Linked DNA regions of Homo sapiens. The protein of the gene in region 1 purifies or fractionates together with the protein of each later gene. This does not show direct contact. Each region holds a gene or a part of one and is shown in the gene's direction. Other genes may lie near its edges.

Region 1 (4,132 bases):
TTGAGAGAAGATCATCAATACTTCTAGAAGCCATAATAATTTGCTATTTATTCACAGCCAGGAATTGGTAATACTAAATGCCGTTAGTCAGTATGCTGGCCAATATAGTAAGAGTGACTTGTGACTGGTTATTAATTGAACAGGTTTTTCAGCACATACCTATTATAAGTTCTTGCTTTTTCCATCCTAGAAAATTCAGGACTGAAAAAGAAAAAAAAAGGTAGAAGATTTTACGCATATATGTAAATTTATGTAAGTGTGTATATGCATACAAACATACATACATGCAGTTTCTATCCTCTTTCCTAGAAAACACGCTCTCATGTCTCAGAAGCAGATACTAGAAATTTGAGAGAGAAAGAGAAGAAGATTATTTAAATTAGATTTTTGTTGTGTTATGTGCTTGATGGTCAAAATAATTGAGTCTTGAGTAATCAATATAGTACCTACTGTAAGTCGTCACCCATTTAATAAGTTGGCAAGGTGAGATAGTGAAAGCTACTCTGCTAATTATTTTGATGAAATCGAATCTTTTGGTGTCTGCAATGTATCTTGACTGGTGCCATAGTGCAAATAATTTTTTCTCTGACTTCATCAGACCTCCCACGCTGCTAAATGTATGGGTGGAATGGTGGCTTGCACGCAGATCATTCACCTCTAAAGAAAACACTCCCAGGTCACAATATATAACCCACATTATAACAACAGCTGCGGACAGGCATCCACATTGCAAAGTTGTAGGCATCACAGTTCGTATAAATTCCGCCTCGAAATTCCCCTACTTTATCCCTCAGAATTTTGATATGAGAAAGTTTCTGATATAATTAATAACCTATTTATCTTTATTTTTTCCTCTTAAGATCAAAAAATATTTTGAACTTGAACCACTTGCACGTGGAAAACGCTGGATTCTACAGCCCTGCTCACTGGATGACATGGATGCACTGAAAGACAGCTTCTCTCAGCTGATTAATTTGTTAGAAGAAAAAGACCATGAAGCTGTAAGAATGTGAAATCTGGCAAAGAAAACAGGCTCCCAAAAGGCCTTGAACCTATCATGTTAGTTTCTCATTTTAATTTTATTTTGGTATCAAGACTATATTGGCTTCAGTATCTATTTTCCTCTGGTCATTTCAGACTCTCATCTCTCTATTAAAGTGAATATTCTGTAGATCAGATGAATTATCATCGGCATTAACGTCAAGTACACACTACTGAGAGAGAATTTATTCTCTGTTTACCACTAATTATCTTCCCCGCATGTCTCTTCCTTCTGTTGTTCTAAGCATCTCTTCTATACTCTGTGCTGAAACGGATGGAATTCATGGCTTATGGAAATCAAATCCCTTTTGAAGGACTCAGAAAGACTCACAAGACCTTGATCATTTTCTCTGGGTTTGGGAGTGGAGTATTATGTGACTGGGACTCCACAAAATATTTATATTATTTTCAAGACCTATTGGGGGTTTTGTTTTATTTTATCTAATTTTTTTTTTTTTTTGGTATACTGAGCTTATAGACTATGAGAGAAAAGTGAGCACCAAAAACTTCATTAATCACCTTATCAGGAAGGAATATCCTGCCATAGTAAAATTGGCTCTGAAGAGCTTAGAGGCAAGTTACACAATGTTTTCTTGATTACATCTGAAGTCTCTTCTCTTTTAAGAGCAAAGACATTGTTTCAGTTTCTGAGAGTGGTTAGAGGAAATTTAGGTACAATGCATGCATCACAGACTGTATTTGATTGATTCGAGTCTTCAAATATTGTTTAATGGAATGATGAGCCTGCATAAAGTGAAGCTGCAATGTAACATAGGTATCTTTTTCTAAAAACTTCAAGTGTTTGATTAAAATAGAGAAAATAATTTTTAAAATAATAGATAAAAATTTTAAAAACAGCCAGAAAAAGTATAATTTATACTGGTTAGGGTTTAAGATGGCATGGATTTGACAAAGATAACAAAGACAGAATCATCTATATATTCATTCATTACGTGTTACTGTAGTTTATTGGAATCTGTTAATGCCTTCCTCTAGTAGTTAAAGGTTTATCAGTATTTCTATTATAAACCTCTATTTTCAGGGGTTTCAATGTGCCCTTAAAATTGTGCTGGGGCTGCAGCAAATAAATAATATTGGGACTCATATTCAGTCTTTGGAACTAGTTTTTTTTCCATTTAATTTAAATGACAAAATTGCATAGGGATAAATGTACAGTTTTACTAAGGTTTAGCACCTTTGATCTTTTCTAAATCAGGAAAAAAATCTATGCATATTGAGGTTCACAGATGAAATATTCTTTGGCATACTTTGTAGACTTTGACCACTTAAAATACTAAGTGGCCAAATGATAAAAAAAACTGCTCCCTGCACATGAGTGTAAAAACATGTTTGTAATTTTAAGTAAAATGGACTGATACCCAAATACCACAGACTCACACTATATTACAGAATGATGTAATACCTGGTAATTCTCCAGAAGATAGACTTCAGACCCTTAATGCCATTTAAATGTAGTTTTTGTGGTTTAATCTTATGAGTAGATTGTAATGAAATCATTACCTTTGAAACATCAAACACTTCTTTAAGCTTTTTTTTTTTAATGTCATGAATCAGGAAGGATACATAGTGATTCGTATACAATTTTGTCTGCAGCATTCTTGAATATTTTTAACACTGTGTAATCCCTGAGCAGCACAAAACTTTTATTCCGATGACCAGTTACACAATTCCTGTTTTTATTTTGTCCTGTTGTGCTCATCTTCTATGAAAAATAAATGATTATTAGGCCTTGCTTTCCCTGCAAGTTCATTAAATGTAGAATGTTGTCTTTTTAAGACACCGTGGCTGAGTGCTCCTAAGCCATCTGTTAAATGACTTCCCGTGGTCTGCGTGTGTGTGTTCATGTGTGCGCCAGTGATGGGCCTCTCCTCAAACCCACGACTGTCTGCAGCGTCTCAGCCGTCAGAATGAAAACATTATCAATCAGTACCCAACAACAGCTGTTTTTGACAAGTTTCTGTCTGACGCCTAATGCTTTACAACTGTCAATAAGGCTCCCTCTTTGTCTAGCAGGTCGGAGCTCGCTGTCTTGCTGCTTCCGCGCGGCATCCTGTCCTTGTAACCCTAGAATTTGCCATGTTTTGGAAATCCACGTGGGGGCGGGGTGGGGCCTGAACGGGTGGGGATGGGTGGGTGGGTGGTGGGGTGGGTGGGATGGCTGGGGGTGGGAGTGTAAGTCCCTTTTCCTACTTTCATGTAAAGTGCCACAGGTGTCTTGGTTTGCATATTCAAATATTATATAGGAAAAACAGTCTGTTATGTATTTCTTCACCTAGCTTCTTGTAATATTTATGGACGTTTCCAGTTTTTGTACCTTCTTAGCTAAAGCAGTTGCCTTTTTGTAATGGCAATTAATTTATATGATAAAACTTTGTATCCACTGTAGTTGACAGTATTGGTTGCTAATTAACTGCCATATTGCCCTGTCTTTCTATTAAAAAAATACTGTACCTGTACTTAGAGGCTAACAGATTCATGTGGACATTTACCAGGCAAGACCAACTTGTATTGTCCATGATTTCTACGATTTCCACTATCTTCAAATGAAAAATAAACGCTGAGTAGAACTGGTGTTTTCAGACTAACTCCTTTCAACTTTAGCATTTGGGAGTCCCAGATTTCTGTTTACGTTTGTGTCGCCTGTTTGTCTCCAAAATAAGTTCTGCTGCTCTTGGGTCAAAACAAATGATTAATTCGCATTTCCTTTGAAGCCATTGTGAAAACCTTAAAAGAAAAAAAAAAAAAAAAAAAGCAAGTATCTTTTCCAGTTGGTTTGTCTTCAGCAGCAATTTACTCTTATTGAAGCTGTTCCTTCGGAGTGTGTGAACAGACTCAAGATATTATTATAAAGCATCATCCTTCAATCAAAGGATTATTTTATAATATGTGCTGTGAAATTAACTTGAGTGGCAAAGTTTGGTGCAATGAGTTATTTCATTCAATGGTGATTGATGCTGTTAAGTAATATTTTTAAGTGACTCGAGGAAATACTGTGCATTTACAGATCCATCCTTAAGGATGCAGGTCTAAAAAAAGAGTAAGAAAGAAAAATCAAGTGGTAGATAGATAG
Region 2 (3,500 bases), on another chromosome or scaffold:
GGAGTCACTCGCTCTGTTGCCCAGGCTGGAGTGCAGTGGCATGATCTTGCCTCACTACAACCTCCACCTCCTGGGTTCAAGCAATTCTGCGCCTGAAATCTCAGCACTTTGGGAGGCCGAGGTGGGCTGAACACTTGAGATCAGGAGCAGGAGAGTAGCCTGGCCAACATGGTGAAACCCCATCTCTACTAAAAATACAAAAAATTAGCCGAGTGTGGTGGCAGGTGCCTGTAATCAGGCAGACTGAGGTGGGAGAATCACTGGAACCTGTGAGGTGGAGATTGCAGTGAGCTGAGATCACGCCACTGCACTCCAGCCTGGGTGACAGAGTGAGACTCCAGCTCAAAAAAAAAAAAAAAACCACACACACACAAAAATACAATTTTATTAGAATTTATACAATGAGAATCCTAAATATAAGCCCTAAATTGATCTGCTTATTTTAGATGTTAAATCAGTTAGCAATAATTTCCGAAGTATAGAAACTTCTAAATTAGTAAAATCTAAAATAATTCTTTCCATCTTCGGCCTCCCTTCCCCTTCCCCGCTCCCCTTCCCCTCACTGGTTACTTTTCTCCTCCTGCTAAATGGATGTAGAGGCACAAAGAAAGACAGGAGGGACTGGTCACGGTGGCTCACACCTGTAATCCCAGCACTCTGGGAGGCCGAGGAGGGTGGATCACCTGAGGTCAGGAGTTCGTGACCAGCCTGACCAACATGGTGAAACCCCATCTCTACTAAAAATACAAAAAATTAGCTGGGTGTGGTGGCGGGCGCCTGTAATCCCAGCTACTTGGCAGGCTGAGGCAGGAGAATCCCTTGAACCTGCTAGGTGGAGGTTGCAGTGAGCTGAGATCGCGCCACTGTACTCCAGCCTGGCGACAGAGCAAGACTACATCTCAAAAAAAAAAGAGAGGAGGTCAGGCTCACCGTCCCATGGGCCTGATAACTGGGACAGAGCTGCCCTAAAGGGAGACAGGAGTGTTGGGGGGATGGGCATGAGCTGGGTTTTGGCTGCGTTAATTTCAAGGTATTAGTGACGTCAGGCAGCACTTGGATAGAGGAATCTGGAGGGCACGGGAGAGGACAGGGCTGCAGAGATTTATTTGGGACACTTGTACACTTGTATTTAAAGTTGCTAGGCAAGGGACCAGGTGTACAGACTGAGTTCTGAGTCTCTCCAGCATTTAAGTGGTCAGGGAGAAGCAGTGACTCCTGAGGTCAGGAGCACTGGGAGGGCTGTGCCCTGGAAGCCCTGGGCAGAAAGGGCTTCCAGGGGAAAGGAGGGAGTCACCGTTGGTCAGCAGGTCATCTGAGAATAACACTCCACCATGAAAGGTCATTGGTGACCTTGACCAGAGGCTCTCTGGCCCGGGGAGGGGAAAATTCTACCAGGACAAAAAGATGTCCCCTCTGGACAGACAAATTAGAAAATAGGAAAAACAGCCCAGGGGCCCAAAGCTCACCCTGCAGAGGGTGACTGACTGGCCCCTTAGGCTGGAACCTCTGTACGGAACCCCAGTTGGCCAGCCATCAGGCAGTGCCCAAAGCTCAGCTTGCAGAGGAGGGGTGAACGTGTACATGGTGCTCAGGGCTGTACACCTACAAGGTGCCTGTCATGCAGCTGGCTGCCACCCGAGGGTGCACACACACAGCAGTGGATCCCGCCAAGGGGTCTCAGAGAGGAGGCGGGGGGCGGAGAATGGTATCAAGACCCTGCTCAGGGAATCAGCTCATTTCATCCGCAGGAGGGCTGTTTCCACTATAAGAGAGGCTGCCAGGCCGGGCGCGGTGGCTGACATCTGTAATCCCAGCACCCTGGGAGGCCAAGGCAGAATGATCACTTGAGGTCAGGAGTTCGAGACCAGCCTGGCCAACCTGGCGAAACCCCGTCTCTACTAAAAATGCAAAATTAGCTGGGTATGGTGGCGCACACCCAGCTACTCAGGAGGCTGAGGCAGGAGAATCGCTTGAACCTGGGAGGTGAAGGTTGCAGTGAGCTGAGATTGTACCACTGTACTCCAGCCTGGGCCACTCCAGCCTAGGCTACACAGTGAGAGTCTGTCTCAAAAAAAATAAAAACAGAGAGAGGCCAGCAGCCTTTCACTGTGAGGGAACCTTTCGTTGGTCAGGATTTGGTCTGAGCCTGTGGAGTAATTAGGGATGTGAATGTAGTGGAGAGGTTGTTTTCTGACTTTGGGGGTCTGAACAAGGTTCTGCTCACTGAACCTTGTCAAAGAACACACCCCCATTCCCTGGGGCTCGATCTGTGGCAGTAAAAAGCACAGAGGGCCCTTGTCCACCCTAGAGACTCTCACCAGTTTCCCTTTGTTCTCCTTAATTTTGTTTTCCCCCTTAATTTTGTCTCAGTTTTGTTTTTAAATTATAAAAGTAAAACATGCCCATCAAATATAACAGTATAGAAGGGTATATAGAGAGGCAAAATAGCCTCCTCCCCAAACTCCAAATACCCCCAAAGGTGACCACTCTTACTACTTCTGGACGCTTCCAGGGCAGTTCAAGCCCACACACGCCTTTGTTTCTGTGAAGGCAGATGGCTCCATGCATTCTGTTCCGTGACTTGCTCTTTCACTAATAGCGTATCTTGGATTTCGTTCCGCGCTTTATTCATCCACCTCTGCCGTGTTCTCCCTTGAGTAGCTGTGGCCCCTTTTGAGTCCCTGTGCCCTATTGCTATTGCTTTAGGTTGTTTCTGGTTTGGGGCTGTTAAAAAGAATGTTGCCAAGAGCCCCCTTCTCTTGTGTCTTTTGTGAAGGTTGCCTCTCCCTAGGGTGAGTTCCTAGAAGTGGACCTTCTAAGTCCAAGGTTAGGAACCCTTGATTTTGTGACATCCTGACCAACTGGCCCCCTGAAATGTACCCTTTTACCTGGCCACCAACCAGATACATGTGAGGGCCTGTTTGTCTTCCCCATCCTCCACCATAACTGGGCATTACCAGGCTTTTTAGAGGGTGCCCATCTGGAAGGGGGTACAGGTTGGGCATCCCGAATCCAAAAATCCAAAATCCCAAATGCTCCAAAATCCAAAACTTTTTGAGTACCAACATGATGCTCAAAAGAAATGCTCATTGGAGCATTTTGTAGTTCAGATTTTCAGATTTGGGATGCCCAATGGCGTGTATTCTGCAAATATTCCAAAATCCAAAAAAATCTGAAATCTGAAACACTTCTGATCCCCAGTGAGGAATAAGGGATACTCAGCCTGTCAAAGCTGCCTTGCTTTAATTCCCATCCCCATGTGGTGACATGGTTTAGCTAGATGCCCAGGCCCTTCCAGGCACTGTCTTTCTGGAGGGCACTCCTGTATGGACAGCCTCCAGCAGGCACAGAGGCCTGGGGGCGGACCCCAGGGTCCCGGCCTGGCCCGCTGCCGCCCTGCTGGAGGGCCTCACAGATCTCTTGAACTTGTTGGCTCATCTCTAGGAAGATACTGGGGTATTTTCAATCGAGTCCAGCCATGGCTTTGTCTAGCAAGACGC
Region 3 (3,500 bases), on another chromosome or scaffold:
TTGATTTGTATAAATCAAATTGAGGGTGGTATATGCATTATATTATAATTTCTCAGCACACCGTAGTTTTTGTAGGTACTGGAATTTTGTAACAGGAAAGGACCTTCATGGTTTATTCCTATTATGCAGATGAGAAAACTCTGCCCTAACGAGGCTGTGAGACTGGCTAGATTCACACATGAGAGTTGGTGATGAAGCCAGACCAAACCCTGGCCCCGTGATTCCCAGTCCCATGCTCTTCCTCCTCTACCAGGTGTTCCTGAACAGGACTGAGGCGTAATTTAAATGACAGATGTGATAGTGACATAGGGACCAGAGGCCAAGCTTGGTCAGTCTAAGGTGCTGTGGCCGACCACAAGCTGGAGTCCATCAGCCCAGGCCAATGTAATGAGTGTAGTCTTGCCCTGTCGTGCCTTTAGGAATATAGTTTGGTGATATGGAATACAATTTTTAAAATGTCACCCTTTGACTTGGTAATTCTGTCAAGGTCTCTAGGAAACTACACTGAGGAAACCATACCTCCCTCCCTTGTCAAAAAAGCAAAACAAAACAAAACAACTTTTCCATAAATGTTTATATTATTGTGTTATTTTTAAAAATAAAAAAGCTAGAATATTCTAAATAACTTACGTGAATAGTTAAGTAAATTGGCATGTATCTCAAATATATAATTGCATGCAGCCATTGAACATTATTCAAAATTACAGGAAATGTGCTTATATTATGGTATTAAGAGAAAAATCAGGATACAATTGATAGATTTCAACTATGCAAAAAATGCAGATTTCTATATTGAGCATGTACCATTTTTGTGAAACTGATGAATTATTAAAATGCTAACTGCCACAAATCCACTTAGTGGAGGTGCAGAGGTCGCTGACTGTGTTACGTGCATTACTGTGAATGGTTCACACAGCTGTGCCTCTTTCCCTGATCAGGTGGAGGGTCCAGAGTATGAAGAACTTGCCGCTCTCCACGATTCTGTGCATCAACAGTCTGTTTCCTGGTTCGCGTCTCTCCAGGATCGCATGAAAGAACAAATTTTAAGTCATTTTGGGGTAATGCCAGACAGAGAACCTGAGCCTCAGGTATGCCCTCCCTTTTTCCTTTATAATTCTGTTACTTCCTGCTGTAGTGTGCTGAGCCATCATTCTGGTGGAGAGCTTGGCAGTATGATGCTGGTTACCCCAATGTGGTTGCTTATGAACCAGTTCATCTACTAACAGCCCAAAGGAGCACCTACTGTGGTAGCACATGACTTGTGAAGCAAAACAACAAAGGCTCTCTAACAGAACATAATTTCTTTTCTAACAACAATCAGTTTATTCTGCTTGGCTGTCAGCTTTTGTAGCCTTTTGCTTCTTTCACTCACATCTTAAAATTTAAGTAGTAACTTTATTGTATTGGCATGAACATTCCACGTTTGGCGCATAGCATTGCCTTGCACCTGGTATAGAGATGTTGAATAAGTGAAGAGAAAAATCCCATCATTCTTGTGACATTAGTAGCGTGACTTCCTTGTCCTCTAAGTACCCTGCTGCCCAGCTGTCATGGGCTTTCTCTGGTGCTCCCTACAAGTACTTTTGGTGAAGCTGGTTCTTTAAGCAATGAATGAGCTTAGGTTTGTGGAGCATTTCTAAGCTCAGGTGGGCCTCTCCTCTGCATTAGATGGGAGAGCCAGGCTGGGCTGGTTTAAGATTGTGCCTGAGAGTGTATACCTCCCACCTGTACATGGATGCTCAGCTGTCAAAGACAGTAGGGGAGGGGGATTGGCTCTCAGCTGGTTTAGGGTGATGTGAAAGGTCTTTTCCCATCCATTTTAACTTTTTTTTTCTGTCTCTTGGAGCTTCTATCTTTTACCCCCTGCCTGAATTCTTTTTTTTTCCAAACACAGAAAAATGCTTTAACTGCCAGAAATTGCCATTAAGTCCTTCCTGGCTTGCCCTTTTTGCATAAGCCTTTGTTCTGCAGTATCCTGGAACTCAGATTCAGAAAGCATGGTGGTTACACTGACTTGCATTAGGATATGAGTCATTCTTTTTCCTAGGAGTTGTTGTTTATTAACCAAATTAATCAATCTCTACTTGGCGGGTATATTAGCTTCCTACTACTGCTGTTAAGAAATTTCACGAACGTGGTGGCTTAAAACAACACATATGTATTATCTTTCACTCCTGGTTCTGCAGGCCAGACTATGATCAGGGTGATGGCAGCATGCGTTTCTCTTTGGAGGTTGTGGGGGAGAGTCTGTTTCCTTGTCTCTGCAGCTTGTAGAGGCTGGCGGCATTCCTCGGCTTCCTTCCTCCATCAGAGCCAGCAATGTTGCTTCTCTCCGACCGTTCTTCCAAAGCCACATGTCCCTCTGACCACAGCCCAGACAGGACCCTATATGAACACATTGGGCCCATCAGGATAATCCCCCCATCCCAAAGTCCTTAACTGAATCACATCCTCCAATTCCCTCTGCCATATAAGGTACCATATGGGGGACCATTTTTCTCATGACTACAGAGGGATTTTAGGTAATACATCAATTTTTATATGAGGTCCTTCCCATTAAGCGTGCTACTCAGTTTTTTTCTTTCTCTGTGAGATGAGGCAGGGAAAAGAGTGTGAATCTGTATAAAAGGTTGTTTTCTCCATCTGTGCCTTTCTACCTCTGAAGGGCAGGTTGATGTCTTCCTCACAGTGACTTGGGCTACCCCTGGTGAGCTTTGGCCACAGTGCTATTCCTAGTCCTCCAGCATAATCTACCTCACCCTAAACTAAGGTGACTCCAGAGTTCACCCTCCCAGCTCTTATCGGCATCCTGCACATTTTTGGAGAAGGAATAGAGTGAAGAATCCTAGACCCTGGAAACAAAAAGGCCTGGATATCTTGGTTCCAGTACTAAGAATATTGAGAACGAGTTTATGATCGGCTTTTGCCTAGCACTTAGTCTAGAAGTGCTTTGTTTGATTATGTGAAATAAAGGTTATTTGGTGGCATAATAATTCTTATATATATAATTTATGATAACTCTTGCATATGACATGCATACATATATATGTTTCATACATACACTCATTTGCCACATTGAGTATGTCACTCAAACTTGTACACATACTTTTAGCCTTTATAATATTATGCTTTATATGGCATGCTTAAGACATAAAAAATAATAGCACAGAACATTGGAAAGTGAAGGTTAAAGTGATAGTATTCTCCTCTGACTGGTATATACTCTTAACTGAAAGCTTGAGAGAACAGAAGCAACTAATTCATAGAATCTCCCCATGGAAGATGCTTCTCTTTGCAGGCTCTTCCTTTTGTGAGTTCCCCCACCTTTAAATGTGTACCATAAAAGTAAACTATGTATTTTGAGAGCTGAATGAATTGTGAATTAGCCCTAAAATACAAGGTGGCATTTAATTCTTGCTCACGTGTCTGTTGGTGGAGCAAAAGACTGTGTTGGGGAACAGGCTTGCATTTCCAGTGTTAACCTTGCTTTCCCCTCATCT
Region 4 (3,500 bases), on another chromosome or scaffold:
ACTGAAGCCCACCCAGCTCAGTGCCCCTGTCCCTGCAGTACCAAATCCCACCTCTGGCACACATGCTTTTAATCAACTCTAGGATACATTTCTCAAAATTCAACATCTCCCACGAGATGCATATCATGGTTTAATTGGCAGTGAGTTTTCCTTCTTAGAGAGGCAGAAAATAAAAGTGTTTTAAATCCATGTTATCCTAAACCTGATGAAAAATGGAGGCCAGGTGCCAGGGATCAAGCCTGTAATCCCAGGACTTTGGGAGGCCAAGACTGGGGGATTGCTTGAGGCCAGGTGTTCAAGACCCGCCTGGGCAACATAACAAGACTTGGTTTCTACAAAAAAAAAAAAAAAAAAAAAAGAAGAAGAAGGAGTAGAGAAAGAAAAATTAGTTGGATCTGGTGGCATGTGCCTGTGGTCCCAGCTACTCAGGAGGCGGGGGGATCGCTTGAGCCCAGGAGTTCAAGGCTGCAGTGAGGTGTGATTGCACCACGGTATTCTAGGTGCTCAGAGCTCAGGAGTGACAGGAGCAAGACCCTGTCTTAAAAGGAAAAAAAAAAAAAAAAAAAAGATGGTAGAAGATGTTTGATATTTCTTGAATTAAAAAAAAATAATTACTGTGTAGTTCACCTAACTCCAGGGCTCCCAAAGCCTCCTGATTATCAAAATCACTGTGGGGTGGGGGTGGGAGGGTAGGATGGATGGGTGGGTCGGGAAATGGAGGAAGGCTTATTCAGAACAGATTCCTGGGCCAGGCGCAGTGGCTCACACCTGTAACCCTAACACTTTGAGAGGCCAAGGCAGGAGGATCGCTTGAGTTTAGGAGTTCAAGACCAGACTAGGCAACATAGAGAGACCTCAATCTCTACTGAGAAAAAAAAAATTTTTTTCAGATTAGCTGGGCATGGTGGTACATGCCTGTAGTTCCAACTACTAGGGAGGCTGAAGTAGGAGGATGCTTGAGCTCAGGACTCAGAGTTCGAGGTTGCAGTGAGCTATGATGGTGCCACTGCACTACTGCCTGGGCAATAGAGCAAGACCCTGTCTCTAAAACAAAATAAAATTAAAAGAGATTCCTGGGCCTGGTAAGCACTTGCTTCTGGTAGTGGTAGAGGACAGGGAGATGGATAACCAGCAGCCCCAACCCACTTATTCAGAAAATGAGTTCTGTCTCCTCCCAGGTCAGAGGTTCCTCCATGTGGCCATGCTGTCTGTCCGGTACGACAGGCAAAGCCACCTACGTTCACAAATACTTATTTTTGTTGTTCTCAACCAAGCCAGGAGAAGCAACAGGCTGGTGCCACCAAGAGATTTGAGCTTGCAGGCTCATGGCTCCAGACACTGCTGCAGGGCCCCAGTCATTGTCCTGCACACAACCTCCCCCAGCACTGCCCCAACCCTTGTTGCTGTTGGTGGGCAGAGGGACCTACCGCAGAGCCCTCCTCTCCTCGCCCCCGGGTCTGGCTGCCCTGCTTTCTTTTCCTGACAAGCCATGGAGCTCTAATCCTGCTGACTTGGGGTTTTTCTCCTCATGTACCTAGTGTCTCTAAGTACACACAACCGCAAGCGTCAGTTTTCCTTTCCCAAATTTCAAACACATTTTTGACACATATTACTCGCTTAGTAAGTTTTTGTACTCCAAAATTACAGAACTTACATTAAGAAGAAAATTTCCGGCCAGGCATGGTGGCTCACGCCTGTAATCCCAGCACTTTGGGAGGCCGAGGCAGGTGGATCACGAGGTCAGGAGATCGAGACCATCCTGGCTAACACGGTGAAACCATGTCTCTACTAAAAATACAAAAAATTAGCCGGGCGTGGTGGCGGGTGCCTGTAGTCCCAGCCACTCAGGAGGCTGAGGCAGAAGAATGGTGTGAACCCGGGAGGCGGAGCTTGTAGTGAGCCGAGATGGCGCCACCGCACTCCAACCTGGGCGACAGAGCGAGACTCCGTCTCAAAAAAAAAAAAAAGAAAATTTCCCCAAACAGTAGGGAGGCAGATTCCAGGTTAGTGTAGGAAGGAGAGCAAAGCAAAACCCTCTAATGAGTAGATCTGCCTGTCCAGAGGGGGAGTGAGCAGCCTTGAGGCGGCAGTGAGCACCCCGTCAGGGAGGTGTAAGCGGCAGTAGGATGGCGGTGGTGCAGGAGGCATTCAAGCACACGGTGGGAGCTCAGGCCAGAGGAGCCTTCTCACATGGTGTTTCCCTGGCTACACTGAATAAGGACTTCATGCAGAAGAACCAGAGTTTTGTTGACGCACCTGGATTTCCTCCTGCTGTTTCATCAGCTTGGAAGACGCAAACTCAAGGGTTGTTTCTGAGTGTTGGTACCTCTTCTTCTCCACTCCGTTCTCCCGGAGTGCACAATTCAGGGAAGGCTTTTCCTGACTGGTGGTGTCAGGGCTGACCCTGGGACCCCCTGTGCTTTCCAACCCTTCCACCCATAGCCTCAGGACTCTATGTCCAGAGCAGCGAGGCACTGCATGTCATCACCAATGTGATCCACGCGAATGGGGACAGAGGCATTACTGTGGCCCAGAGCAGCCAACCCACCCGAGTGGCCAACAACAGCATCTCCTGCAACCGGCAAAGTGGGGTCAAGGTTGAGGCCCAGTGCAAAGTGGAGCTCCGGGGCAATGGTATCTATGACAACAGAGGCCACGGCATTATCACCAAGGGCGACAGCACCATCGTCATTGAAAACGATATCATTGGCAACCGGGGCAGCGGGCTGCAGCTGCTGCCCAGGTCCGACACTAAAGTGAGTATGTCTGCATGTGTGTGACGTGTGGTGCCCACACAGGGCACAACCCTGGGATAGTCCTCGTGGCCTCTGCTGAGAACAGAACCGTAATCACTCAGCACTACAAGGGACAGTATCCCTCCTGCCAGGACTCAGCCTGGGAAATGTGGGTGGGACTTCCCACAGGGGGGGACGGAGAAGCTGAGTCCTGAAGGATGAACAAGGGCTCACCAGCAGGAAGCCAGGGATGGGGTGTCCCCTCCTTGTCATGGTGTTGGGAGCCTCCCGAGTTATCTTCATGGTCTCCGGGTCAAGGTCAGGACTATTTCAGCTCTCTTTCCTTAACAGAATAATCATGCACAGTGCCTGCTGTACAGTAGATGCTTCATGAAGAGAGAGATCCTGCCTTGGGGCCTTTGCATACACTCTTCCCTATATACCCTGCATACCTCCTGCCCGCCTTGCACTGCAGTCCTGCAGCTTAGCTGTATCTTTGTTCAGGAAGAGTCCCTGAGCTCCCACCTCCCACCCCAGGCTGTTTGAGTTATCTCTTGTCTAGTGCTTTTGTCCACACATACCTCACAGAGCACTCCCCACAGGGCTTGGTCCTCACAGAGCACTCCCCACAGGGCTTGGTATCTCTTCCTTCACCTATTTGTCTCCCCACCGGACTGAGCTCTGAGCACCTTTCTATGCAGAGCTCCGTTTCACTGTGGAGCCAAACAGATCTTGTTCCTGCCCTTATGGAATTACGATCCCAAG

The links.
Region 2: the proteins of ARL15 (region 1) and CNNM4 purify together in Homo sapiens (co-immunoprecipitation; 3 studies listed by BioGRID and IntAct, with this or other methods). This does not show direct contact.
Region 3: the proteins of ARL15 (region 1) and LONRF2 purify together in Homo sapiens (affinity purification with mass spectrometry; 2 studies listed by BioGRID and IntAct, with this or other methods). This does not show direct contact.
Region 4: the proteins of ARL15 (region 1) and FBXO10 purify together in Homo sapiens (affinity purification with mass spectrometry; 2 studies listed by BioGRID and IntAct, with this or other methods). This does not show direct contact.

The regions. Positions count from the first base shown.
Region 1 is NC_000005.10:53,883,442-53,887,573, reverse strand, and holds the end of ARL15 (ADP-ribosylation factor-like protein 15), read left to right. Parts: intron 1-860; coding exon 861-1,013; 3' UTR 1,014-3,632; downstream 3,633-4,132.
Region 2 is NC_000002.12:96,791,902-96,795,401, forward strand, and holds part of CNNM4 (metal transporter CNNM4 precursor), read left to right. Parts: intron 1-3,500. UniProt on the Homo sapiens protein: Probable metal transporter. The interaction with the metal ion chaperone COX11 suggests that it may play a role in sensory neuron functions. May play a role in biomineralization and retinal function.
Region 3 is NC_000002.12:100,284,502-100,288,001, reverse strand, and holds part of LONRF2 (LON peptidase N-terminal domain and RING finger protein 2), read left to right. Parts: intron 1-938; coding exon 939-1,088; intron 1,089-3,500.
Region 4 is NC_000009.12:37,517,381-37,520,880, reverse strand, and holds part of FBXO10 (F-box only protein 10), read left to right. Parts: intron 1-2,442; coding exon 2,443-2,756; intron 2,757-3,500. UniProt on the Homo sapiens protein: Substrate-recognition component of the SCF (SKP1-CUL1-F-box protein)-type E3 ubiquitin ligase complex. Mediates the ubiquitination and degradation of BCL2, an antiapoptotic protein, thereby playing a role in apoptosis by controlling the stability of BCL2.